7 linked regions of the Homo sapiens genome follow. The protein of the gene in region 7 purifies or fractionates together with the protein of the main gene of each other region. This does not show direct contact. Each region holds a gene or a part of one and is shown on either strand. Other genes may lie near its edges. The genes, in order: CLTCL1, LRP4, ZMYM6, GRHL1, PABPC5, SORL1 and ZSCAN21.

Evidence for each region.
Region 1: the proteins of ZSCAN21 (region 7) and CLTCL1 purify together in Homo sapiens (affinity purification with mass spectrometry; one large-scale study listed by BioGRID and IntAct). This does not show direct contact.
Region 2: the proteins of ZSCAN21 (region 7) and LRP4 purify together in Homo sapiens (co-immunoprecipitation; 2 studies listed by BioGRID and IntAct, with this or other methods). This does not show direct contact.
Region 3: the proteins of ZSCAN21 (region 7) and ZMYM6 purify together in Homo sapiens (affinity purification with mass spectrometry; one large-scale study listed by BioGRID and IntAct). This does not show direct contact.
Region 4: the proteins of ZSCAN21 (region 7) and GRHL1 purify together in Homo sapiens (co-immunoprecipitation; one large-scale study listed by IntAct). This does not show direct contact.
Region 5: the proteins of ZSCAN21 (region 7) and PABPC5 purify together in Homo sapiens (affinity purification with mass spectrometry; one large-scale study listed by BioGRID and IntAct). This does not show direct contact.
Region 6: the proteins of ZSCAN21 (region 7) and SORL1 purify together in Homo sapiens (affinity purification with mass spectrometry; one large-scale study listed by BioGRID and IntAct). This does not show direct contact.

What each region holds. Positions count from the first base shown.
Region 1 is NC_000022.11:19,218,720-19,222,219, forward strand, and holds part of CLTCL1 (clathrin heavy chain 2), read right to left. Parts: intron 3,375-3,500; coding exon 3,232-3,374; intron 2,893-3,231; coding exon 2,658-2,892; intron 1,289-2,657; coding exon 1,166-1,288; intron 1-1,165. UniProt on the Homo sapiens protein: Clathrin is the major protein of the polyhedral coat of coated pits and vesicles. Two different adapter protein complexes link the clathrin lattice either to the plasma membrane or to the trans-Golgi network.
Region 2 is NC_000011.10:46,912,051-46,915,550, reverse strand, and holds part of LRP4 (low-density lipoprotein receptor-related protein 4 precursor), read left to right. Parts: intron 1-3,500. UniProt on the Homo sapiens protein: Mediates SOST-dependent inhibition of bone formation. Functions as a specific facilitator of SOST-mediated inhibition of Wnt signaling.
Region 3 is NC_000001.11:35,018,446-35,021,945, forward strand, and holds part of ZMYM6 (zinc finger MYM-type protein 6), read right to left. Parts: intron 2,023-3,500; coding exon 1,938-2,022; intron 1,158-1,937; coding exon 908-1,157; intron 1-907. UniProt on the Homo sapiens protein: Plays a role in the regulation of cell morphology and cytoskeletal organization.
Region 4 is NC_000002.12:9,996,693-9,999,734, reverse strand, and holds part of GRHL1 (grainyhead-like protein 1 homolog), read right to left. Parts: intron 771-3,042; coding exon 706-770; intron 1-705. UniProt on the Homo sapiens protein: Transcription factor involved in epithelial development. Binds directly to the consensus DNA sequence 5'-AACCGGTT-3'.
Region 5 is NC_000023.11:91,433,685-91,437,638, reverse strand, and holds the start of PABPC5 (polyadenylate-binding protein 5), read right to left. Parts: upstream 2,801-3,954; 5' UTR 2,745-2,800; intron 2,737-2,744; exon of another isoform or gene 2,640-2,736; intron 2,205-2,639; 5' UTR 2,062-2,204; coding exon 913-2,061; 3' UTR 1-912. UniProt on the Homo sapiens protein: Binds the poly(A) tail of mRNA. May be involved in cytoplasmic regulatory processes of mRNA metabolism. Can probably bind to cytoplasmic RNA sequences other than poly(A) in vivo.
Region 6 is NC_000011.10:121,455,314-121,458,813, reverse strand, and holds part of SORL1 (sortilin-related receptor preproprotein), read right to left. Parts: intron 1-3,500. UniProt on the Homo sapiens protein: Sorting receptor that directs several proteins to their correct location within the cell. Along with AP-1 complex, involved Golgi apparatus - endosome sorting.
Region 7 is NC_000007.14:100,056,274-100,059,773, reverse strand, and holds part of ZSCAN21 (zinc finger and SCAN domain-containing protein 21), read right to left. Parts: intron 2,864-3,500; 5' UTR 2,768-2,863; coding exon 2,369-2,767; intron 2,077-2,368; coding exon 1,884-2,076; intron 1-1,883. UniProt on the Homo sapiens protein: Strong transcriptional activator. Plays an important role in spermatogenesis; essential for the progression of meiotic prophase I in spermatocytes.

The sequences.
Region 1 (3,500 bases), on a different chromosome or scaffold from region 7:
ACTATCTGCAAATGTCTGTGAGGCTATAACTGGAGAGGAGGCTCTTCCACAGGGCTGTGGGAAGCCCTCCCAGAGGCCGAGGCAGACTCCCACCTGCCAGGCCATACCCAATAATGACCCCTGGCCCCAGCACTCTGCCCAGTCTCCAAGGAGGTGCTGGATAGTCACAGGGGCATAAAGAGCACCTCAACAAAGGGAAGTCAGCTGAGACAACCTTGAAAGCTACTTCACCTCTGTCCACGAGGGCTGAGCTGGGCCCAGCATGCAGGCATGACACCAGGTACTCTCTTCCTGGGCTGCATATCCCTGCTTTGGATCCAAGGGCCAACTCTATGCCCTTGGCCAGTTAACAGTTCCAAGTCAGCTTACCCTGGGGAATCAAGCTATTTTTAGGCAAGCTATTTCTGCAGGGGAGAAGGTTCGTAAGGACTAAGATGTTTTATTTATTTATTTATTTATTTATTTATTTATTTATTTAATTTTTTTGAGACAGAGTCTCACCCAGTTGCCCAGGCTGGAGTGCAGTGGCGTGCAGTCTCGGCTTTCTGCAACCTCCACCTCCTGGGTTCAAGCGATTCTCCTGCTTCAGCCTCCTGAGTAGCTGGGATTACAAGCATGCGCCACACAGTGTGTTTTCGTATTTTTAGTAGAGATGGGGTTTCACTATGTTGGCCAGGCTGGACTTGAACTCCTGACCTCAAGTCATCCACCCGCCTCGGCCTCCCAAAGTGCTAGGATTACAGGCGTGAGCCACCATGCCTGGCCTATTTATTTATTTTTTTGAGATGGAGTCTCTGTCTGTCGCCCAGGCTGGAGTGCAGTGGCACGATGTCGGCTCACTGCAACCTCCACCCCCTGGGTTCAAGCAATTCTCCTGCCTCAGCCTCCCAAGTAGCTGGGATTACAGGCGTGTGCCACCATGTGCGGCTAATTTTTGTATTTTTAGTGGAGATGGGGTTTCACCACGTTGGCCAGGCTGGTCTTGAATTCCTGAGACCTCAAGTGATCCACCCACCTCCGCCTCCCAAATTGCTGGCATTACAGGCGTGAGCCACTGCCCTCAGCCAAGATGTTTTAAATTAAAAATGAAACCAGTCACTTGAGCCACAATGATGATCGGACGGCAAAATGCAGGTGTGCAGACATACCCATCTCTGTGCCTCACCTGGTCAATTAGCTGTCTCCTGGATGGGTTGGTCTCCTCAAGGACGTGAGCCCAGAGCTCCGGATCCTTTCTGCATACCAGGTAGCGGGCCTCGCTTTTGAACAGAGAATTCTCATTGCACACCTGAAATGAGCACACTCATGTGTGTGACACAGCAGCCAACCAGCGGAAGCTGCTTGGGAGGACACACCCCAATTCGTTCCCTGTGTGCCTGATACTGGTTTGGTGGACAGTCAGGGCCCAGGCAAGACGCTATGCTTTGACATGGGATGAGCAGCATCCTACAGGGTTAACGATGGACTCAAACTACCTCAAAATGCCCTTTCCAAGTTTACAACAACTCCCAGGGATGTGCCACATATCTGGCCAGTAGGACTTCCTGCATTCAGGGACATGCTCTGTCTCCCATTCTGTCTGATACAGCCACTAGCCATGGGAGGCTACTGAGCCCTTGAAATGTGGTGCGTGACAGGAACTAAACTGGTAATTTTTAATTTAGTTAAATTTAAGTACTCATATGTAGCTAGCTTTAAACCATCTGTAAAATGTTATCAGAACAGCCTAGAACTGGTATAAAACAGCACAAACACTGCAATGTTTCAAGATCTAAAAACTGTAAACTGTGCTTTCACTGGTAGATCTGGAGACCTTTTTCTGAATGTTATAACAGATCTCCAAAACACCAACAGTCCACTGGAATGTTCTAGCGTGTGCAGCACTTGCTAAATCCTGGTGAGGATCAGATCTGTTGAGTGCCAGATGCCCGGCACAAGGCTGAGCGGCGTGCACACGTGCTTGCGGATGCAGCGCAGTCCGCCTGTGTATCACAGGAAAAGCCCAAGCAGGCTGGTGTGGCACCAACCTCACAGGTGCCCTATTCATGTCTGGATTTTTAGATCAAATGATTAGGTAGGAACAGTTCATACAATTCAACCTAAACATGTAATTATATGTGGATCCAAGCCTGGGCAGATGCAGGCAAAAGACCTGGGCAGATGTCTCAAGGAGAGGCCAGCAAGAGCTCATTGGTCAGGTGATGGGGAAGGGCTTGTGTAGAGGGTTACCCCAAAAAGGGGGCATGAAGTACAAGGGTACTCGGGACATGAGGCACCCAGGGAATTGCAGGCCTCTCCAGGTGGGGTGGCAAGATGGATGGCTGATCAAGTTCGGGAGTTGGGAAAGGTGGCAGTCCACAGAGGAGCTCACGAGTCAGGCCAAGGAGTTCAATTCTGCCCTCAAATTGCCAGGCAATAGTAAGGACTGTAAGCAGAGGGATGATAAGTCAGGTTCAGGACCAACTGGTCTACAGGTACAATGCATACAAATTGCATGAGCAAGTTCCCAAAAGCTGTGAGAATCACAAGGAAATAATCTCATGACCTGCCATCTCCAGGTGCACAGAAAGCCCTGATCAGCTCCCCACAGGCACACCTTTGAAAGCTTCCCTGGGAGCCCAGGGTTACATGGGCAGCTCAGCACATCTGCTACCCACCTTGATGAGCTCAAGGTCACACTGCCCCCGCTCATAGGCAACACAGGCCAGATGGGGGTCTCGCTTCTCACAGTAGCGGCCCACCACGCTGCTGTCATAGTAGGCATTCTCTCTCAGGAAGCACTCGGGGCTGTTGTTGCTGTCGATGTAGATTTTAGCCAGTGCATTGTGAGTGGCAGGCTCCTCACAGCCTTCCTGAATCTGGGACTCCAGCCAGGGAAGCAGCAGCTTGAGCCTTTGAAAGAAGGAAGGTGCTGTAAAGTCTCAAGGCTACCACTGGAAGTCTTGAGGGCAACTCCAGGGCTCTGACAGATGTTTCCTGAAACAAAAAATCTCAGAGTCCATTGACTTCAGGTTGCTCTAGGGACCAAGATGGACCTGGTTTCCAAACTGATTTCTACTGTTAGGTTTTCCCCCAAGGTCTTCACAGTACCAATAGCAAGTAACTCATTGCTACATCTAAGATGTGTACATGAACGACCAGCTATAGAGACAGTCCTGGAGAATTAGACAGAAACAACAACAGACACTAGAATCCAGGGGTAAGAGAAAACACCAAGTAAGGACACCTTACCTATTTCTTTTTTCTACTTCAGCCACCAACTCATCAGTAGAGAACTGTCCTCTCACTGCCATGATTAAGTGTTTAATCACTTCCTCAGAACAATCCACATCAAGCAGCCCTCCAATCACAGCTGGGGTCCGGCTAGGGTTGACCTAGGGTAGTCAAGGTCAAGTAACTTCAGTGTTGCAAACACAAGTTATTGTTAGAAGCCTCCTACGACGTGGACAGTTTGGGCAAAACCCTGAAAGGGCTCCTGTTTAGCACTGCGCTGTGTCCCA
Region 2 (3,500 bases), on a different chromosome or scaffold from region 7:
AAAGTTTAAGGTGCTTATTTGGATGCTGCTAGTCCTTGGGGCTTTTCCTAGAGCCTATTGGTTTGGACTCAGCCCACATAACTCTCCAACCTTAAAGATTTTGGAAGGAAACTTGATGGCTGGTAATAGCCCTGAGTGATTTTCATCCTGAAGTTTGAAGTAAGGGCATGGATGACAACCATTGGAAGAGTGGAAAGTGTGTTTGTTCTAGAGGTCTCATCCAGGTAAGGGAAATGTTAAAACTTCTGCCTAGGCGTGCTTGGGTAGATAGAAGGTTGTATCTGAAAATAAGTGCAGAGCAATTGAGCTGAGACTGGTCTCCTTTCCATCTCGCTGTTGTCGTGACCAGGGTTGTCATGGTGCTTGAGTGACCTTGTCCCTGATCTGTTGGGCTTGTGAAACATACTTGGCTTGTCACTGATTTTGGATTTCCTCTTCTGTACCCTGATGAATATCAGATAACATCTTTTGGACTGGCACGTGGTATTAAGAATGACAGGTGCAAGGGAACCAAGTCTGGCCATGTCTGATACAGAGCACGTTGGGTATGTCCATCTTCTGGGCCAGCAAAGAACACAGGAGGTCACAGAGGACACGGTGTTTTATAGCTCTTTGCTCACTCTTTCTACCGATTAACTGCCAGTCTTAACTGTTAGAAGGAAAATAGGAGAAATTGTTTATGTTGCTGCCCCTTTAAAGAAAAAAAAAATACTGGGGGTTCCTGAATAGGAACAGAATTTCAGGGACTACTTTAAGAAGTAATCTTGTCTTTTTTATGATTGGGTAAGATTACGAGACAGTCTGTGCCCTTGGTTGACTAGGTCTGTTAGCCTGTTCCAGCCATGGTCTCTCTACATTCCTTGATGCAGCTTAGCCACGAGTTTTGTCACAGTTGCCTGGACATGGGGCATCTGGGCCCCAGACTGTGTCTGGACTGCCATCTCATCTTCAGCAGCGGAAGCCCTCCTCCCCTCCTCAGCCTGTGAGGATTCAGTGTCCCAGGGAAGACTCAGTGCTGACTGGTTAGCTGGCAGAGCCTGAGTTTGACCTTATAAATAGTTCTGATGACTGCATGGGCTTGTCACTCTCACTCCAGCTTAGAGCTGGCAGGAATGAGTTCCTCGTACAATCGGGAGCATTCCTCAAACTAGGCTCCACACCCATTCACTTGTTCATTCATTCAGCAAACACACATATGTCAAGCATTAATATAATCACTGTATACGAAGCTCAGCAATTAAGAAGCACCCACAGACCTGGGTTTGAATCTTGGCTCTGGCAATTCTTGGTGACCCTGTGCAAAATCTCCCTGAACCTCAGGGTTGTTACCTGCAAAGGCGGGTAGGGTAGGGGAAGGGAAGTAGTAATAGATTATCACATAGGAATATCATAAAATTTACCTGAGATAATAGCATGTTCAAACTATGCAGCACAGAGCTTGGCAACTACTGTGTTACTGTAGAGCTTGATAAAAGTTAGCTGTAAGCAAAGTCACCTAAGTGGATCCGAGATGATTCTTGGCTTTAGAACATGGGAGCCAGGTAAATAATTATGCTACCGTGTTCTGTGCTAAAATTGAGACTTGGTCCTTCATTCATTGCAGCTGGTCTTTTGCTTGTCTCTTTTAAAGATCTGCCCCTTCTTTCTCCCCTTGAAAACGTGATAGAACCGAAGCATAGTTCCCACTTGTGCCCACTCCTAGAAAAGAAGTCTGCTAAGCTATAACATCAGTCTAGGGGAACTCATGTCGCCTTAGTTCTCTTGAGAGAGGTCTGGGGAAATGGAGCTTTTCCTCTGAGAGTTTCCCTTCTTAAGTGGTCAGGGATGCAGCCTAGCAACTTCTCCTGCTAAGATTCCTGTGACATGGGGTGAGAGGGGCTGGCCAGGGACTCTTGTAGCTGGAACAGTTTAGAATTCCAAGCCCTCCCTCCCATTGGCCTGAGAAAGGAGTCAGGCTCCAGAGCTCATAAGGTAGTAATTGCCCCAATTTGGGAGCTGGGCTGTTGTGGAGCCTTCGCAGCTACCATTTTCAATCAGGAAGCCTGTCAGCTTGCAGGCCTAATTGATGTGGGTCTCCAGCCCCGAATAGCCCCCAACCCCTAGTTCCTCCACCTCAAAGTTTGACCCCTGTTGTCTCTTTTGTTTCTTCTTTTTAAGTTGGTGCCAGTGATGTGATTTTTGGGAGCTGCGGAAAGTTGACCGTAACCAAGAGCAGCTGTTAAAAAGAGCCAATTCTCTAGCTTCCTGACGGTTGTCTGCCTCCATTTTCTGTTGTGCGTTTTTGATTTAGCAAGAAGCAAACATCCTAGGTGCCCTTGGGCGCCTCTTACGCCCATCCAAGCAGACTTCATTCTTTCACTGCTCGTAGGCATTCCCATTCTTGCTCACAGATGAGCGGACTGGCTGTTAGCGCTCCCTGACACCCTGTTTCCCCATGCGGAATAGGACTCCCCCATCATTCAGGTTCGAATGAGGGGAGGGGCGCTGTCTGGGACCCAACTGGGGATAGCCTGGCTGGGACTTGCTGCAAGCCCTGACTTGGCCTATGGGAGCTCCCCCTCACCTCTATGCACAGCTGAGGATCAGAGCGGCAAGCAGAGCCGGAAACAAAAGACTGGGAGCAAACCTCCCATCTAGCTGAGAGGCAGTGACACAGAGGTGCTGCTGCATAATTTATCACCGGAGGTTTTCTGGAGCCGGGAAGCTCCTGGCTCCAGGCAGTGCCTTTTTGCGGGAGAGGGACCCTCCCTCTGTCTGGGTGTAGGGCAGAGCAGGTACAGAGAAGGGTATCCAGAGAGACACCTGATTAGCATGTGAAATAAAGAAGCTGCAAGGTTGTAAGTGCCTCCAGGGATCTCTCCAAGCTCGGCAGCTCCACTTCCTGTCACGCCTTGGGGGAGGTGGGGAGGGGTAGTGGCCTGCAACCACGCGCTGGCATGGATGAGGACAAGAGACAGCTTCTCTGTTGAGTTGACTGTAGCCTCCTTCTAACCAAGTGGAGAGGCCAGGTTATGGCATCCACAAGCCTAGCAAATAGGAAAGGGGAGCCCCAGGTTTTCCACCCTCCTTCCACGGGCAGTTTAAACAATAAGTTTCAACTACAGGCTCCCAGAGCCAATAAAAGCCAACAACTCTACAATGTATCTTCCCCAAATGAGAATTTCTGCTCTTCTAGGAATGATCTCCTCCAATGACAATTTTTGCAAATTGTGGGATATGTGGATTTACAAATTGGGATATGTGGTTTAAAAAATCCAAATGTATTTCTGGAGCAGTTAGCATTTTTGAGAGCTTTGCTGTGTCCCTGGTACTGTGATAAGCATTTAGTATATGATATCATATTTATTCCTCACAATATCCTTATGAGGTAGGTAACATTAGATTCCCGTCTTACATTGGCCAGGTGCGATGGCTAACGCCTGTAATCCCAGCACTTTGGGAGGCTGGGGTGGGTGGATCACTTGACGTCAGGAGTTCGAGACCAACCTGGCCAACATGGT
Region 3 (3,500 bases), on a different chromosome or scaffold from region 7:
GATATGTTAAGTATACATAGTAATATGTATTATATACACATATATTTATTATATTTATTTATGTTAATTATAAATAATCGCACGATATAATTTTTATTATTAATAATAACAGGATTCCATTTTTTAAGTACTTGCTATGTGCTAGGCCATTTGCTAACACTGTCTCATTAAAGTCCTAGGAAGCAACTATTATTTACTGATGAGAAATGGAGGCTTAGAAAGTTAAACATCTAGCCCGAAGTCACAGAGATAAATGACAGAGCCACAATTTAAAAGCAAGCTCTTACTGTTTTTTGCCTGTAGTGACTATTAACAACACACTGTATTCCTCAAATTACACTACCACAGAAATAGGCAAAATATGCCAAATCCTTCAAATGTACTAAGTCAGGGAAAGATTTATGTGACTTTGTTGCTGTTTTTTCCTCTCTCTGCATCTAAGCATTATTGTAAAGCAACAATGACCCCACAAGGACATTAGAAATAAACACATTTTTGCGACCATGTAGAGTTTTTACTTTTTAAAGAATTAAATAGCTTTTGTATACTATTAAAAGAGTGATATTATTTTATGCTATACCCAATAGCTTTCAAGATAACTGTTAAATAAATTTAAATGGTGGGTGTCTACAATTACAGGATAGTCCTGCAATTCCCACATGTCATTTGTTATTTCTTTCCATAGTAAAATTTAAAGTGATAGAAAACTGGTTTAGGCAATATTCTAACACCAAGTCACTTATTTAATGTTGCAAAACTTTAAAATTGGTGAATTCTTCCATTAACTAAAAAGTTATTTCTACAGATACATGCTGAAGAGATTTAAAGTATCAACAGTATGTTTGAACTAAACAATATACACACTAAAAAAAAGGTAAAGTAAAAAGGGATGTTAAGAATTTTATACTTCGAGCAGTTTGTGCAGGTTTTCTTGGGAGGAGGTGGCAGGCAGGCAGGTGAAGAATGTCTGGTGATGCATCGTGTGGAGCAGAAGAGCTGAGTAGATCCTGTCTTATGATATGCAGTTTGGCCCTTATAAAGCATTTTTTTACAACCAGAACAAAAAACCTTAATAGCAACAGCTGGAACTGAAGGAAGCAACACACTTGGGCCAGATGATGCAAAAGAAAGCTGAAAGCCTGGGTTCAACTGCTGGGCTATCAAAACAAAATAAAAAAAGTTTTAGTATCAATACTAATGCATATACAGTCTCAGTCTCTCTCTCTCTCTCTCTTTTTTCTTTTTCTGAGACACGGTCTCACTGTCACCCAGGCTGGAGTGCAGTGGTGCAATCAAGGCTCACTGAAGCCTCAAACTCCCAGGATTAACCAGTCCTCCCGCCTCAGCCTCTTGAGTAGCTAGGACTACAGGCACATGCCACCACACCCAGCTAATTTTTTTTTAATTTTTAGCAAAGATAAGGTATGTTGCCCAGACTGGTCTCAAACACCTGAGCTCAAGCGATCCTCCTGCCTCAGCCTCCCAAGTTGCTGAGATTACAGGTGTTAGCCACTAAACCCAGCCCAGTCTCTCTTTTTCAGGACAAATTCCCAATCTTGAAATCCAGTTAATGAGGCAATAAGAGCTCTAAAACAGAGGTTTCAATTTTTTTTTAACCATTACTCAACGCAAGAAATACATTTAATATTATAACCCAGTTCTCACATACATATGTTTGTAAACGTGGGGATGTATGTACAATTTAATCACTGAAACAGAAGTTTTATGAAACAATATGTTTCCTTACTACACATATCATATTCTGATATAATCTTACTCTATTTTTTAAAACGCTGCTGAAAACCAGCTACTCACAGTTTGAAAAAACACAGCTCTAAAGAAAGAGAAAGACATACATGAAAAGATGCTTTCCCTCAATTTTAAAAGTCAGAATAAGCAAATTAATTGTAACTAACTTATACAGTTCCATTTCTTACCAATAGGTCTCTCATTAACTGAAGACACACCACCAATTTTCAATTTACTTTCTTGAGTTTTTGGCTGTTGGACACATCCATACTCCTTTAAAAAAAAAAAGAAAAGAGAAAAGAGCAATGAATACAATGTATGTAAGTAAACTAGAAATTCAAGCAAAAAAAAATTATTCTATCCTATTCATCTCCTTTTTTTTTTTTTTTTTTTTTTGAGATGGAGTCTCACTTGGGTGCCCAGGCTGAAGTGCAGTGGCGCGATCTCAGCTCGTTGCAACCTCTGCCTCCCAGGTTCAAGCGATTCTTCTGCCTCAGCCACCCGAGTAGCTGGGACTACAGGTATGTGCTACCACACCCAACTATTTTTTGTATTTTTAGTAGAGACAGGGTTTCACCACATTGGCCAGGCTGGTCTCGAACTCCTGACCTTGTGATCTACCCACCTCAGCCTCCCAAAGTGCTGGGATTACAGGCGTGAGCCACCACACCCGGCCCTATTCATCTCTTAAACAGTCTAATCATAAATACCTTCACAAGCACCTCAAAAGTCAAAATTTACAAGTTATTACACTAATCTTTACAAAGACAATCTTTCAGAATTAGAGAATCTTTTAAAATACTTTTATCTACTTTTCAAATGAAATTTTGATATATGGGAGTAATACATAGCTATTCCAAATGCTGAGCACTACCTATTTTTTAGGTAGTGTGTTTAAAAGGGGGTAATAAATGAAAAAAAAAATTTTTTTTTTTTTTTGACATGGAGTCTCATTCTGTCACCCAGGCTGGAGTTTCATTCTGTCACCCAGGCTGGAGTGCAATGGCGTGATCTTGGCTTACTGCAACCTCCAACACCCAGGTTCAAGCGATTCTCCTGCCTCAGCCTCCCAAGTAGCTGGGAATACAGGCTTGCGCTACCACACCCGGCGAATTTTTGTGTTTTTTTCCAGTAGAGAAGGGGTTTTGCTATGTTAGCCAGGCTGGTCTGGAACTCCTGACCTCAGGTGATCCGCCCACTTTGGCCTCCCAAAGTGCTGGGATTACAGGTGTGAGCCACTGCACCCGGCAAAAAGGAGCAATAAATGAAATTAAATCTGGCTGGGCGTGGTGGCTCACACCTATAGTCCCAGCTACCCAGGAGGCTGAGGCAGGAGAATCACTTGAACCCGGGAGGAGGAGGCTGCAGTAAGCCAAGATTGTGCCACTGCACTCCAGCCTGGGCAACAGAGCGAGCCTCTGCCTCAAAAAAAAAAAGAAAAAGAAAAAAAGAAAAGTTAAATCTGAATGATTTAGAGTTTGGATTTCAATCATTTTAGATTTACAAGCTGCCTTTTCTGTTAATGGCAGAAAAGATACAAGAGTGTCAATGCAATCTGCTCATTATACATAAAATCATCACAGACAAAATCCTATTTATTCTTACCACATTCTTTAAAACGTTTTAAAACAAAATGTAATCATGAAACATTTTTAAAATGTAAATGCCTATCTTTATTCTGAAATTGCAACCATCCTTTTTTTTAATGTTAAAATACCCTTACATATTTCAAAACAGGAAGTTTTTTAAAA
Region 4 (3,042 bases), on a different chromosome or scaffold from region 7:
CTTATCCATGCCAAACATCATAGACAGACAAAAAAGAACTAAAAATACTAATTTCTAGACAAAGCAGCAACGTGACATAACTTGGAAATAGGATCCTGAGCAGGAGGGTAGAGCAGGGCATGGGCTGCAGAGGCAGGGAATACCAACCATGGCCCCGAAAAGCCTCTTGAACTCTGAGCCTCAGCCGCCTGTCTATAAATATAAACAAGCCCTGAGACCAGCTCAGAAAGAAGACGTGAAGACCAAGCGCAGCACCGTGGGACGTGCCCAACCCAGTGCCCGGCTCCAACGGGCTCGACACACGGAGGTGCTGCCCTGGCCATCCTCAGTGGCGCTGGCCACACACCCTGGAGTGTGGAGCCATGGCACTGCTGCCAGGCATGTGGAGGGCAAAGAAGGTGACTTGGAGAAACAATACACAAAGATCTCCTCAAGGCAGATCAATTTTATCTAAGTAATTTCGTATATAATTTAGAAAAGCCACATTCCAGCACCCAGGTTTCTTTGGCTGCTTCTGGACTGGGCACGATGCACACGTGTCACACTGGCACAGGGTGTGTGTCACTGGCACAGGAGGGTGTCACTAGCATGCACGGTGTGTTACATGGTGCTGGGGGGTGTCAACAGCACTGGGGGGTGCGTCACACTAGCACTGCGGGGGGCATCAGCACTTTCCGAGGTACACAGGACGCAGTGGCTGCTTACCCCTTTTTACACTTCTTGAATATTTTCCCAATCTTGTCATGGGGAACATCGTATTTGTCTGAGATCTAAAAGAGGAAAGAAAAATAATTACAAAACCCTGTATCAAGGCTTTAGAAACCAAACAACAAATATATATATATGTATATATATGTGTACATATATATACGTATATATATGTGTACATATATATACGTATATATATATGTGTACATATATATACGTATATATATGTGTGTACATATATATACGTATATATGTGTGTACATATATATACGTATATATGTGTGTACATATATACGTATATATGTGTGTACATATATATGTATATATATGTGTGTACATATATATGTATATATATGTGTACATATATATGTATATGTATATGTGTACATATATATGTATATGTGTACATATATATGTATATATATATGTGTACATATATATGTACATATGTATATATATACATGTACACACATATATACATATGTATATATACGTATATATATGTATATATATACGTATATATATGTATATATACGTATATATATGTATATATATACGTATATATATGTATATATATACACACACACACACACACACACACATGCATAGTCACTCGACTTTTTGTTTTTCAAAAACGCAGACACAAAGACATGGAAAAGCCCCAGCTCGTGTGCTGGGGGCCTCCAGCTCTCCTCAGCCCGGCTGCCCCTCACTGTAATGAGCTTCTGGGGAGCTGTGGCTGTCTTCCTTTCGGGACATAGAGGCTATTTTTAATATTTTTAAAGAGAATGGGTGAATTGCTCCAAGGACAAACAGCTGATTCACTCTAGATCAAACGTTACACTTGTCATCCAGACCATCCTCAGGCTGGCATCACCAGCTTCACCTCAAGCCACAGAGCAAAGCTCAAGGTGGCACTGAGAAACAGAGCCTCAGGTGGCAAACGTGCAGATCCTGCCAACCTTCCAAACACGTGTTTCAGACCAGACCCCAGCTCCAAGTTCTCACCACACAAACCCTTTTTCTTTTCTGTACGAGTGGATGATAATACTTTGTGTTCTGACATGTAAGACCTGTCATGAGTTCCTCGTGAGCCATGAACAGTTATGCTGGCCCAGTAATTCTGCATCCTCTTTACTCTCCTCTTTCCCTGTAATCAGAATTTGCATGTTTTTTGTTTGTTTGTTTTTTGTTGTTTTTTTTTTTTTGAGACGGAGTCTTGCTATGCCAGGCTGGAGTACAGTGGCGGGATCTCAGCTCACTACAACCTCCACCTCCCTGGTTCAAGTGATTCTCCTGCCTCAGCCTCCCGAGTAGCTGGGATTACAGGCGCCTGCCACCAAGCCTGGCTAATTTTTTGTATTTTTAGTAGAGACAGGGTTTCTCCATGTTGGCCAGGCTGGTCTCGAACTCCTGACCTCAGGTGATCCTCCTGCCTCTGCCTCCCAAAGTGCTGGGATTACAGGTGTGAGCCACCGCACCTGGCCAGTTTGCATGATTCTTAAGACATGATGAAGGGTCATCAAAAGGCAAGAAAAGAGAAACCCAGGGGACATCCTAGGAGGCAGGAAGTGACAGTGGGAACGGCGCTGCCTGTGCTGTGGGCAGGCAGGGATGCACTGAGTGACACCCGTGGACTTGGGGCGCCTGGCTGAGAGACCGCACAGCAGCTCCCCAAACCCACGCCCCATCTCCCTGCTTTATTAATCTTCATGGCACTCATCAGTACCTGAAAAATGACCTCAACTTCTTTGCTTATTTTGGTGTCTGTGTCTTCCTAACTACAAAATAAACTCCATTCAGCACTGTGTCACTGACGCGCATAACTCCAGTGCCCGCCACAGTGCCTGGCATGAAGCAAGCCCTTTATCAAGATGTGTTAAATGAATTCAACACACTACAGTCATCAGAGGGAGCTGGGGGAGATGCTTTTAGCCCAATTATGGACACACTTTGAGCTTAAAGATCTCTACGGTCTCTAGGAGACAGGCTGGTAAATATCTGCACTCAGTGCTGATGACATGCGTTTTTCCAGTGCACAGCTGGAACGGGAAATTAACACAGCAGCCTTCCATGTTTCCTCTCTTACTGATATCCCCACAGGGAGCATGGGGTCAGTTTATTCCAGCCTCGTGCTGAGATCCTCGTAAGATGGACTTACGGCCATCACTGGTTACACGTCTACTTTCTCTGCAATAGGCTGTAGTGAGGTCTTGATGCAAGTTCAGTAATTTCCTAGGATTGGGAGTTTTAAAGGTAGACTGAGGAGCCACTGTTTTTATGTATGAAGTTTTTAAGATTGTACTTGATTAAAAATCACTTTTGTTAGCTTCT
Region 5 (3,954 bases), on a different chromosome or scaffold from region 7:
GAGTACTGCCTTTTATATTGACAGTTGATAAAACCCGAAGGTAAAATATTAAATTATTTATAGGTAAAGGCAATTCAGCGCAGTTATTCATCTTTCTTGTTAATTTAACATGATCCAAGTATATGTACTAAGGAATTTAGAAAAATGAATGGTAGGAGTGGTACTGAAAGTATCCTCACATACCAAATCTCTTAGGAAAGGTTTTTAAGATGCAATTCCTACTTTAAATAGCCACTGCCTAAAGTGTTAATTTTCTCAGTGACTAATTGAGAAAACACCAATATGCTTACTTCTTTGGGCAAGAAGTTAATACGACCACTCCCAACATTTAGTCAAAAGTACTATCAAATCTGTAGCATGTTCACAACATATTAAAAAATGAAACAAGAATACAAATAAAGAAAATAAAATACATTTCACATTTTTTGAAAAAACATTCATTTTTGCATAATAATTTTAAGTGAAATTATGCAGATGTTAATTGCATCACATATGTTTTCCCCTGCTGTACTGACTTCTCAAAAACAAGTTAGAACTTTTCACTGTGATAGATTCAGAAGAACCATGTTGACATTTTCATGAAAAAAAATAGAGTATTACTGAAATAAGAAGGGAAATATACTCAATCAATTGCCTCACCTTGACTGTTCAGGAAAAAAAAGTGGAGGAATACACTTTATTCTACAGATTTCTAAGGATATTACATCAAAAAAAGTACAAAATGACAATTTTACAGTTAGAAATTATGTTCTATTCTAAAATGAATAAAGTTTTCTAGTTTTGCATTTTTTTTTCAAAAGAATTCACTTCAAAAAAAAACTTGTGAATTAGCATAAAATAACCCCTTATCACAAAGGAGCCCAAACTAAGGAGGCACCAACTAAGGCTGAAACAAACTGAGCATTCTTATTCTCAGCACCTGCGCCTGGCCTGGCCCAGGGTGACATGCAGGGGCTTGGAGCCCACTATGCGGCCATTCATCTCATCCACTGCTTTGGTAGCCTCTTCAAAAGAGGAAAAGCAGACCACACCAAATCCTTTGCCTTGCCCCACTTCCATCATCACTTTGGCCCGACTAATTGACCCAAAGGAAGAAAATTCCTCCTTCAGTTTTTCATCATTGATTGTCTCATCCAAGTTCTTAATATAGATAGGCACCCCTGGGGGCCGACTTTTTTCTTTTAACCTCAGCCGTTCAAATCTCCGCCTCAACTCAGCCAGGCGTTCAATTTTCTTCTGTGCTCGCCCTACATAGAGGACTTTTCCATCGATGGACTTTCCATGCAAGTCTAGCACAGCCTTTTGGGCAGCCTCGTGTGTCTCATATCTCACAAATCCAAAGCCTTTAGATTTCCCACTGGCATCTCTTATTACTTTAACACTCTCAGTTGGCCCATATTCACAGAAAAGTTCCTTCAGTTTTTCGTCATCTATGTCGTCTCCAATGTTTTTAACGAAAACATTGGTGAAAGTTGCTCTATCCCTGGTTCTGACCTCAGCCGCCCGCTCTTCTGGGAATTTGAATCTGCCAACATACACCTGGCGGTTGTTGAGCCGCACTCCATTCATGTGCCAGATGGCTCTATTGGCAGCGGCCAGGCTGTCAAAGTGAACATAGGCATAACCCTTAGAGCCGTTGTCATCGCATACGACTTTGCAGGACAGAATGTTCCCAAAAGCAGAAAATAAGTAAAACAGGGCCCTATTGTCTATGGATTTGTCCAGGTTTTTGATGAATATATTTCCCACTCCAGACTTTCTTAAGCGGTCATCTGGCTGAGACCACATAAGGCGGAATGGTTTTCCATTAATCAAATCAAAATTCATGGTGTTCAAGGCCCACTCTGCATCCGCGGGAAAGCGGAAGTTAACATACCCATAGCCCAGGGGGCTGCGGGTCACCGGATCACGGCAGATTCGGGTGAATCGCAGAGGGCCAGCAGGCCTGAACTTCTTATAGAGCATGTCCTCGGTGACATCTGGGTCCAAGTCACCCACGTACAGAGCGGCCTTGAGATACTTCTTTTTCTTGCCAGCAGGATTAGGCTCCCCGCTCCCCATCTCTCTGAGCACTGGGAGGAGGTTCTCTTTGAAGAGAAAAAAGGCTGCTTTCTCTAAGCTATGGGCCAAACAGCTGTTCACGAACAGAAAAAGCCAAGGCAGGCAAAAGGAAGCTAAAAGCAGACTCAGAATCACTGTCGAGGCTGAGAAAATGAAGTTCAGAAACAGCTGGTCAGCAGGCTCAGAACAAACACATCAGACAAAAAGGCGCCCCAAATACGAATCTATTCTCCCTGCGGGGACTTAAAATTGTCACCCGTTCAGATTTAAAATCAGTTTCAAAAGCCAGTACCAGAAACGTAATTTTCCTGTCCCCGTGAAATTGTGAGAAGCCACCAAGCAGCTGGCTGGTTCCCCACAACTAGCATTGCAGACAGAGGCCTCCCGACCCGCTTTCTGCATAAATATAGGCCTAGAGCTCCTGTTGGTTTAAAATGATATCAACAAGGGCAGGGACCGAGCGCGTATTCCTCCGCCGGCTGCCTGGCCAGTCTCGGGCTGGCTAGCCTTTCGCTAAGGCCTCTCCGCACTCAGCGTCTGCGAAAGGGTACACCAGACACTTGGTGCGATAAGACCGGCAGGCAGGCTGCAGGCAGCGGATAGGACACAGAGACAGACAGACAGACACACGCGCGGGGGATCGAAGACCGCCCAGATACCCAAGATGCCCACTGGGTACGGACCGAGTGAGGCGCGGTGATTTCAGCAGCCTGAGGCTCGAGGCAGGTCCGGAGAGACTGACTGGCAAACGCGCAGTGAGTGGGTCAGCTCTGACGCGAGGCGGGTCTGGCCAGATGCGGGGCGGAGTCAGCGAAGAAGGGCAGATGCGCGGCGGGCGGTCCCAGCGCAGACCGATGGGCTGGGGTTTCTCTCCGCAGGACAGTCCAACGGAGGGACCAAGAGCCAGTAGCAGTGATAGGGAGGGGGGACAGGCGGGGCGCGAGAAACCCGGAACCGTGCTAAGTAACTTCCCGCTTCCTCTGTACCAAGATTTAAAAAAAAAGAGAGAGAGAGAAGGGGGGAGAGAGAGAGAGAGAGAGAGAGAGAGAGAGAAGGGGAGAGAATGAGAGAGAGAGAGAGAAGGAGAGAAAGAAAAATCTAAGATGGCTTTTAGATGTTTCTTATATTTTAAATGTTATTTATTATTTAAAACACTATATTTAAGCCGAACATCTAAAAATCACATAAGAAGATGACGACCTGGGCAAAAATAATAAGTTTTAAAAAACTAATTATCAAAATCATTTAAGCTTAGGGAAAAGGATAGGTTGCATACTTTCCTGAGTGCATTGGAAAGTCAAAGTTTACAAATGTCCTGGCCTCCCAATCCAGTGCTAAAGGATCACAGGGTCAAGTAGAACACAGGACCATGTTGCCTTTGGCCTTTAGCCTTACTTCATTAATCTCCAACATAATGGTAATATTTTCCTCAGGTGGTAGGCAAAGAGATCTTTTCTCTGATCCCATAATACTAAGGTTTTAATGATTGGAGAGCCATATAATGGCTTTTGATGGTGTTTAGTGCCACAAAACGTTGAAACTGTTGAGCTGCCGCGAGAATTACAGTTACAAAATCTCAGTTAAAGAGATAAAAGCCACAGAATCAATACAAAATATGTAATTAATATTTACAGATGAAATAAACATGTTAAGATATATGCACTTTACACAATTATGAATTTCATCATGAGTTGTCAACTTGAAACCCTTGAAGGAAACAGTGCCATCAGACTGGACTCAACTCAGCAGTTTCTCAACAATATCTCTCTTCAGAGTATTTGAGAAACCCTTTTGGAGAGAAATTTTGACCGTGTTTTCAGAAATTCACTGATATCTAGCATGCGCAAACAACACTTCAAGAGGCTCCTTCCACAATTCCTACCCCTCCAGAAA
Region 6 (3,500 bases), on a different chromosome or scaffold from region 7:
ACTCAAATCTTGATCTTGCTCAGCAGCCCACCCTGCCTTTTCTGGATTTTAGCTTCATCAGCCACTTCAGCGCTTGAAGGCCGCCCATGCCACTTCTTCGAAGGCCCAGGGTTCACAGGTCGATAAGCCAATAAATTAGGTCGAAATTAACTGTGGCTCATTTTAAATTGAGGGAAATTGATTTTTGCATGTACGTGGCTAGACTGACTATACCATCTGCCAACAGTGTCTGGCATACCTAGAAAATGCATAGGAAAGTCCCATGCTCATCAACAGAGAATGCCTCACCCCCACAGCCCAGACCACCTCTGGAGAAATACTAATCCCTGAATATTCAAACCAAAAATGCAGTGAGCTCTCTTTTACTTTCCATCACATTTATTTAAATCCAAATAAATGGAGGAAAGGTCAATGTAATGCCCCCAGGTTTTAATACATTTTTATTCATTTAAAACATTTAATACATTTTTATCAACTCTCAATTATCTGCATCTGAATTATTGTCGCAAATTCTAAACTCCAAACTGCCTTTCCCTGAATACATTTAGGCCAGCCATTTCCCTTATCAATAGATCAAAGAATGCAAACTCATTTTAATATTCACCTGAGCAAAACTTAATTAGGAAGGTAAACGAATGCTTTAAAAAAAAGACTACATAAATACATAGCAAAAGCAAATCGATTATTTTTTGGATTACCTGCTCTCCAGATTATGATAAGACTGCCCCCTGTGTCCCTCCATTACAGTGGGTGGAACAAAGCTGGCTCCAACTATCTCTGCCCTGGGATTCAACAATGACACTATGAAGATGGCTGTCATCTCTAAGGAGGAACAGACCAAAATCTGACAATGAAATGTTCCTACAACATCCACCTTTTGCCTTGGGATGTTCGTTGCTATAAGGATCTGCCTCGTGGATCCCAAGTCTCAAAGCAATTTATTAAGCATACCATTAACTTCATTTTACAGAACATAGAGAAAACATTCTCAGACAGAACACAAATTAAAACCAAGATCCATGATCACTGTATTCTGATGCTCTTACAAGCCTGGACTCCACATCTCAAGGGAACTGTGCTCCAGCATCTCTCCAAGTTACAAGGGGGCTACATCAGGCTGCTCTCCTGCTCTGCAAGAACGCTTGAAGTGAAAGGAGAATGAGGTTTTTCTCACCTGGCCTGGAAAAAAAGTAATCATCTATTTTATATTATGATACTTCAGGTAATTTTCTAACAATTCACCATCATAATATCACAAATATAATTTAGAGCTAAAGTTAATCTCATTATTCAGGATACCAGGGACTACAGGTAACAGGAAGCCATTTATAATTCAAGTTTCCAATTTTATGTACATACATGTTGTACATGCATAGACTGTTTCTGGAAAGATATACAAAAATATTGATAACAACGGATGCCACCCGGAAAGGAGCTCTGGGTGAACAGGGGGCATGAGAGGGAAGGAAATTTGTTACCACATACGCTTTTGTACAAATTTTGTTTTGTAAACGTGCATTACCTAATCAGACAGCTTTTTATTTCATCCCTCCAAATTCCGCCTCCTTACTCTTCTCACCAACCCCTTTCCTCCATTCCTTCCCCCTCGCAAAGCCTCCACCTTCTGTGCCTCTAACCATGCAAGCTATTTATGAACTAAAAGCGGCCAGAGACTGGGCACAGAGCTCCCTAAGAAAAGACGCCAAGTGGAACCAGGAAGAGCTTTTCAAGGTCACGTCCCTTATTGAGCCAACCCAAGGCCCCGAGCAACTCTTCAGCTACATAAAAGCCAACCTGAAGCAGCACATTCTTTGCCTTCTCATCTTATTCTGGAAGCACACAGGTCAAACATCCTAACTTCAGAATCAACCAGCCAATTCTTTCCCAAGCAAGTGTATCATGGAAGAATCTACTCAAAAGAGATCTAAAGCTGAACGGTATTCCACCCCCAAAGGAGGCCTTTTGTCCCAGGGCCTTGTGCTGTAATAGACACTTTATTTTCAGTCTCAAATCAGGACACTGAATACTCCCTGGCTTCTAAAATGTAGGAATTATGAAGAGAGAGCTTGTTGGAAGGAAAATAAACCTGTAAATCCTGTTAGGCTTTGTGCTTTATTCCAAAGGATTTTTCCCCAAAACAATACCATTAGCATAAACCAGAATGATAGCCCTAAAAGGGAGGATTCTGTAAAATAGAATCCAAGCTCTTCATTGAAAATAACTCCCATATAGCACAGGCAAATCAGGGCTCCACTATCTGTAGGCCATGCCGCTTGCATCCTCACTACCGAATGAGCCATCTCATTTTCACTATCCATGTGTGGGTTCACTGTATTCCTCCTTACAAATACATTTTATATAATGTGAATGTGCTTCCTACCCTCTGGGCCTCTCTTCTTCCAGGTGTGTGGCTGGTCCACAAATACTCATTAAGGGCCTCCCAAGTGCCAGGGAAACACAAGAGAACTTGATCCATGCCCTCAAGGAGCAAACAGGAAGATGAGACAGTTGAGCAATTCTAACACAAGGCAGTAAGTGCTGCCTCCAAGCTCAGAAGAAACTCTTCCCACCATAGCCTGAGAATACCAAGAGGTATTCCTTGGATGTTAAAGAATGGAATAAGAGCTTCCCAGGCAAGGACAAGAGTTGGGGAAGATCATTTCAGGCAGAGGAAAAAGCAGGTATGATGGCGCAGACAGACAGAGCTTATGAGAAATCAGGAGGAAATTCAGTGTGGCATGAATTAGGGAATCCCTCTTCTTGGACCTGGCCTTTAAGAAGGGGCTCAACTTCTAAACTTTGCCTTTTTTTTTTTTTTTTTTAGATGGAGTCTCACTCTGTCCCCCAGGCTGGAGTGCAATGGCGCGATCTCGGCTCACTGCAACCTCCGCCTCCGGGGTTCAAGCGATTCTCCTGCCTCAGCCTCTTGAGTAGCCAGGACTACAGGCATCTGCCACCACGCCCAGTGAATTTTTGTAGTTTTAGTAGAGACGGGGTTTCCCCATGTGGACCAGGCTGGTTTCGAACTCCTGACCTCAAGTGATCCACCCGCCTCGGCCTCCCACAGTGCTGGGATTACAGGCGTGAGCCTTGAACATGGGCAGAAAAGTCCTGATATCTGCCAGCAAATTATTTTCACCCCTACAATCACATTTCAGTATCATAAATGTGCCTTTAAGTAATCATGGCAGAAGCCGGTCTCCCCACCTTAGAGAAACTGAGGAGGAAAATGGTCAAAATAACCAAGCCTAGTTTACCCAAGACATTAGCGAAGCAGAGGAAAAAGGACCGACATTGACTCCAGCACAGGGCTCTTTCTCAGATGCAAGTATTCCCCTAGAAAGCCTTCCCTTCTCTTCTCCCTGAAGGTGGTGGCCTTAACATCGCCTCTAGGCCTGCTTCCTTCAGGCAGCTTCTGCTTCCAGCCCTAACCTGTGCTGCCAGTGTCCTCTTAACCTCACTCAAAGGTCAGAGGGCAAGAAGCTGGACAGTGTCTGAGC
Region 7 (3,500 bases):
AGCGCCACTGCACTCCAGCCTGGGCAACAAGACCGAAACTCTGTTTTTTTAAAAAGAGCTGGGCGTGGTGGTGTGCACCTGTAGTTCCAGCTACTCGGGAGGCTGAGGCAGGAGAATCTCTTGAACCTGGGAGGCAGAGGTTGCACTGAGCCGAGATTGCATAAATGCACTCCAGCCTAGCAACAGAGGGAGACTCCGTCTCAAAAAAAAAAAAAAAAAAAAGACTTTATGCAAAGCTTTCACAGCCAACTTCCCTTTCCTTAGGAGGGCCCAGCAGCTTTGTCTTCTGTCCCATCTGGGTACTAAAACCCAAGCCTGTTCCTGGCTCTGATAATCCTTCCACTCCACCCTCCTCTTTGTGTAATACTGCCAAGGGGCTACACCAAGAGATATGGAAAATAAAACTGACCAGATAGGTCTCCGGCTATTTTTATCTCTAATTACTGTGGCAACTCTGGGGAAACCCCAATTGCCTGGAGAGGTCTACTGTGTTCACCATAAACCATGAAGAATTTAGCTAACAGTTTAATTTTTTACTTTTCCTAGAAAATGTGATTTTTAACCGGCTCGAAACTCTGTTTCCATGATGGAGTTTCACGTTTCAGACACAGCAAGCATGGAGGGAGATTTCTGAGGGCCATGGACTCTTGTCATGAAATCACACCACACACATAAATAGTGGTCTACACCACCAACACGTAAGCAAAGTCCTGGTTTGAAACTATTAGGATTTGGAATAATATGCCATATTTTTGCAAACATATAATTAAACATTAACTCTGTTTCAAAGATTTAGTTCTAATCCTTCTGGTAAATGAAGGTACTTAAGAGTAGAACCCATAAAATAACAAAATAACATAGGGCCAGCTTGGGCAACATAGTGAGACCCTGTCTGTACAAAAAAATAAAGTTAGCCAGACATGGTGGTCCCAGCTACTTGGGAGGCTGAGGTGGGAGGATCATTTGAGCCCCAGAGATTGAGGCTGCAGTGAGCTATGATCACGCCACTGCCCTCCAGCCTGGATGACGGATGGAATCCCTGTCTCAGAAAAACACACAAAAACACCCCCACAGGGGATGACCATTTATGGCCTGAGATTATTCTATAAACCATAATATATGGAGATTTGAGCTCAGGAGTAGTCACCTAATACAGCTTTGACTTGTGAAAAATGCCCCACCTCTTTCCATAGCTTCAGAAAGGAGGTTGCCAATTATTTCCCATTTGCCCTTCTCAGATCCATTCTCTGACCCGCCCTGTGCCCCAGGAAGCTGACCCTAAGGGCTGCACTGTCTTGTCTTTCCTGCCCTCTGGCTGCCAACTGAGTTTGTCATTGGGGAACAAAAGCAGGAGATTTAAGGGCAGGAGGAGGGTGCAGTTGGGGTATTTATTCCGTTTTCTCCTCATCCCACAGCAGGGCCTACAGCCACAACTTCTATCAAGTGACCCCCTCCTCCATGACTATAGCTCTTACCTGATTCTGGTAAGAGGGTCCCCCTCTGTCCCTTTAGGCTCACAGGGAGTAACAGCTTTTCACTGTTGTCTGGTGCAACACTATTCCTTATTGGTTCATTTGAAGTCTCTACACCTCTGTTAACAGTTTCTTTTTTAAACTCATTTCAATTGACCCTTTAAAAAAAATTATTTGTAATACTCAGACTTCAAAGAGAAACTGATCCTTTAAGAGTGATCCATTCCCATGCTAGGGCCCAGGTTAAGACAGCCTTACTTGGGGGAGGAAAGGGGACTATTTCCACCCAGTCAGCCCAACTAATCAAGTCAATCTATGAAATCACCTCACAACCAAGAATTACTAATTATTCTGCTTCTCCAACCACAGGGGCCTGGGGCACTGAATAGGAGTCTAATGGGTGGTCCTCACCTCGGACCTTTCTTGGATCTTGAGCGAACTCCTGCTCCTCACCAGACTCTTGGATGTACAGGGGCCCCCAAGACTCGTATTTGTGACTGGTCTCCAAGGGCTGTGGCTGCATGCTGCTCGGGGATTCCTTTGCAGTTCCTGAGGAGGATATCTTCTCCCACACCGGTTTCTGTTCGTTTGGAGGAGTTGAGACCTAGAGACAATCAGGAATGGCTAGGTTTGTGCATGGCTCACTTTAAGACCAAGAATGAAAATCCCAGTAGAGCTACATAGAACCTCTAGGAAAGAGAAAAGGAAAACACCCATCCCATTCCATTCCCAAGGCTAAAAGTTAGTTTAGGATGATAGAGAAAAATAGGAGGAAACAAGGTCTAATTCAGCAGAAATTTCCATTCAGCAAATCTTAATGTATGGACAAACCCTTGTTCCTGCCTAGAATGTTACGCTCCCAATCTCCTAGAATAACAAAGGTCTCTCCTGCCTACCTGGTGTCCTGGCTCATCCAGTTCCCGCTCCAGATCTTCGAGGAGAGTGACAGCCTCTTCAGCGCTCTCCGGGCAATGCTCCTGCACCCAGGCCTGGAGCTCCTGGGGCAGGATGGTCAGGAACTGCTCCAGCACCAGTAGCTCCAGGATCTGCTCCTTGGTGTGGATCTCGGGCCTCAGCCACTCACAGCAGAGCACCCGGAGTTGGCTCAGGGCCTCTCGGGGTCCAGGGGTATCATGGTACCCAAACTGCCTGAAGCGCTGGCGGAACATCTCCAGGCTAGGAAGGTACTTGCCTTTCTCTTCTTTCTCCTCGACTTTTACCATCAGAGGCCCCACCTGCTCCTGTGGAGGCCTAGGGCCCAGAACTGGGGCCATGCCTAGTACCTTGGTCATCATGTAAACTCCAGAAACAGCCTCACCAAAGATGGGACTCTGTGGGGCAGGAATATTCGTTCCTTTGGGTTTCCAGTTCTTTAGGGCCACAAGTTAAACCTAAGAAAATATAGTTACCAAAAAATAATCAAACTGAAAAGTGTTTTTGGGTCTTTACAGCCATACCTTTAACACAAGAAATTGTGGAAATTATGTCCACCATAAAACTACCATACAAAAACAACTGCTCAAAATCTTTCTGGAATGAGCTGGGTACAGTGGCTCATGCCTATAATTCCAGCACTTTGGGAGGCTGAGACGGGTGGATCACATGAGGTCAGGAGTTTGAGACCAGCCTGGCCAACATGGTGAAACCCTGTCTCTACTAAAAATACAAAATTAGCCAGGCGTGGTGATGGATGCCTGTAATCCCAGCTACCTGGGAGGCTGAGGCAGGAGAATTGCTTGAACCCAGGAGGCAGAGGATACAATGAGCCAAGCCTGCGCCACTGCATTCCAGCCTGCGCAACAGAGCGAGATTCCATCTCTAAAAAAAAAAAAATCTTTCTGCAATCAGCTCAGGATATCCTACTTTGATTTCAGTGGTCTCCACTTTCCTAAAAAGTGCAATGTGGCATAATTTTAAAGTTAACTTTGCTCCAAAACTAGTTCAGAATCTCACCACTATAGATATTATAGTTTCTGAGATTTTATCAAGCTATCTACTGGCTAGATGCCATCTGTTTAAACCTAAGAC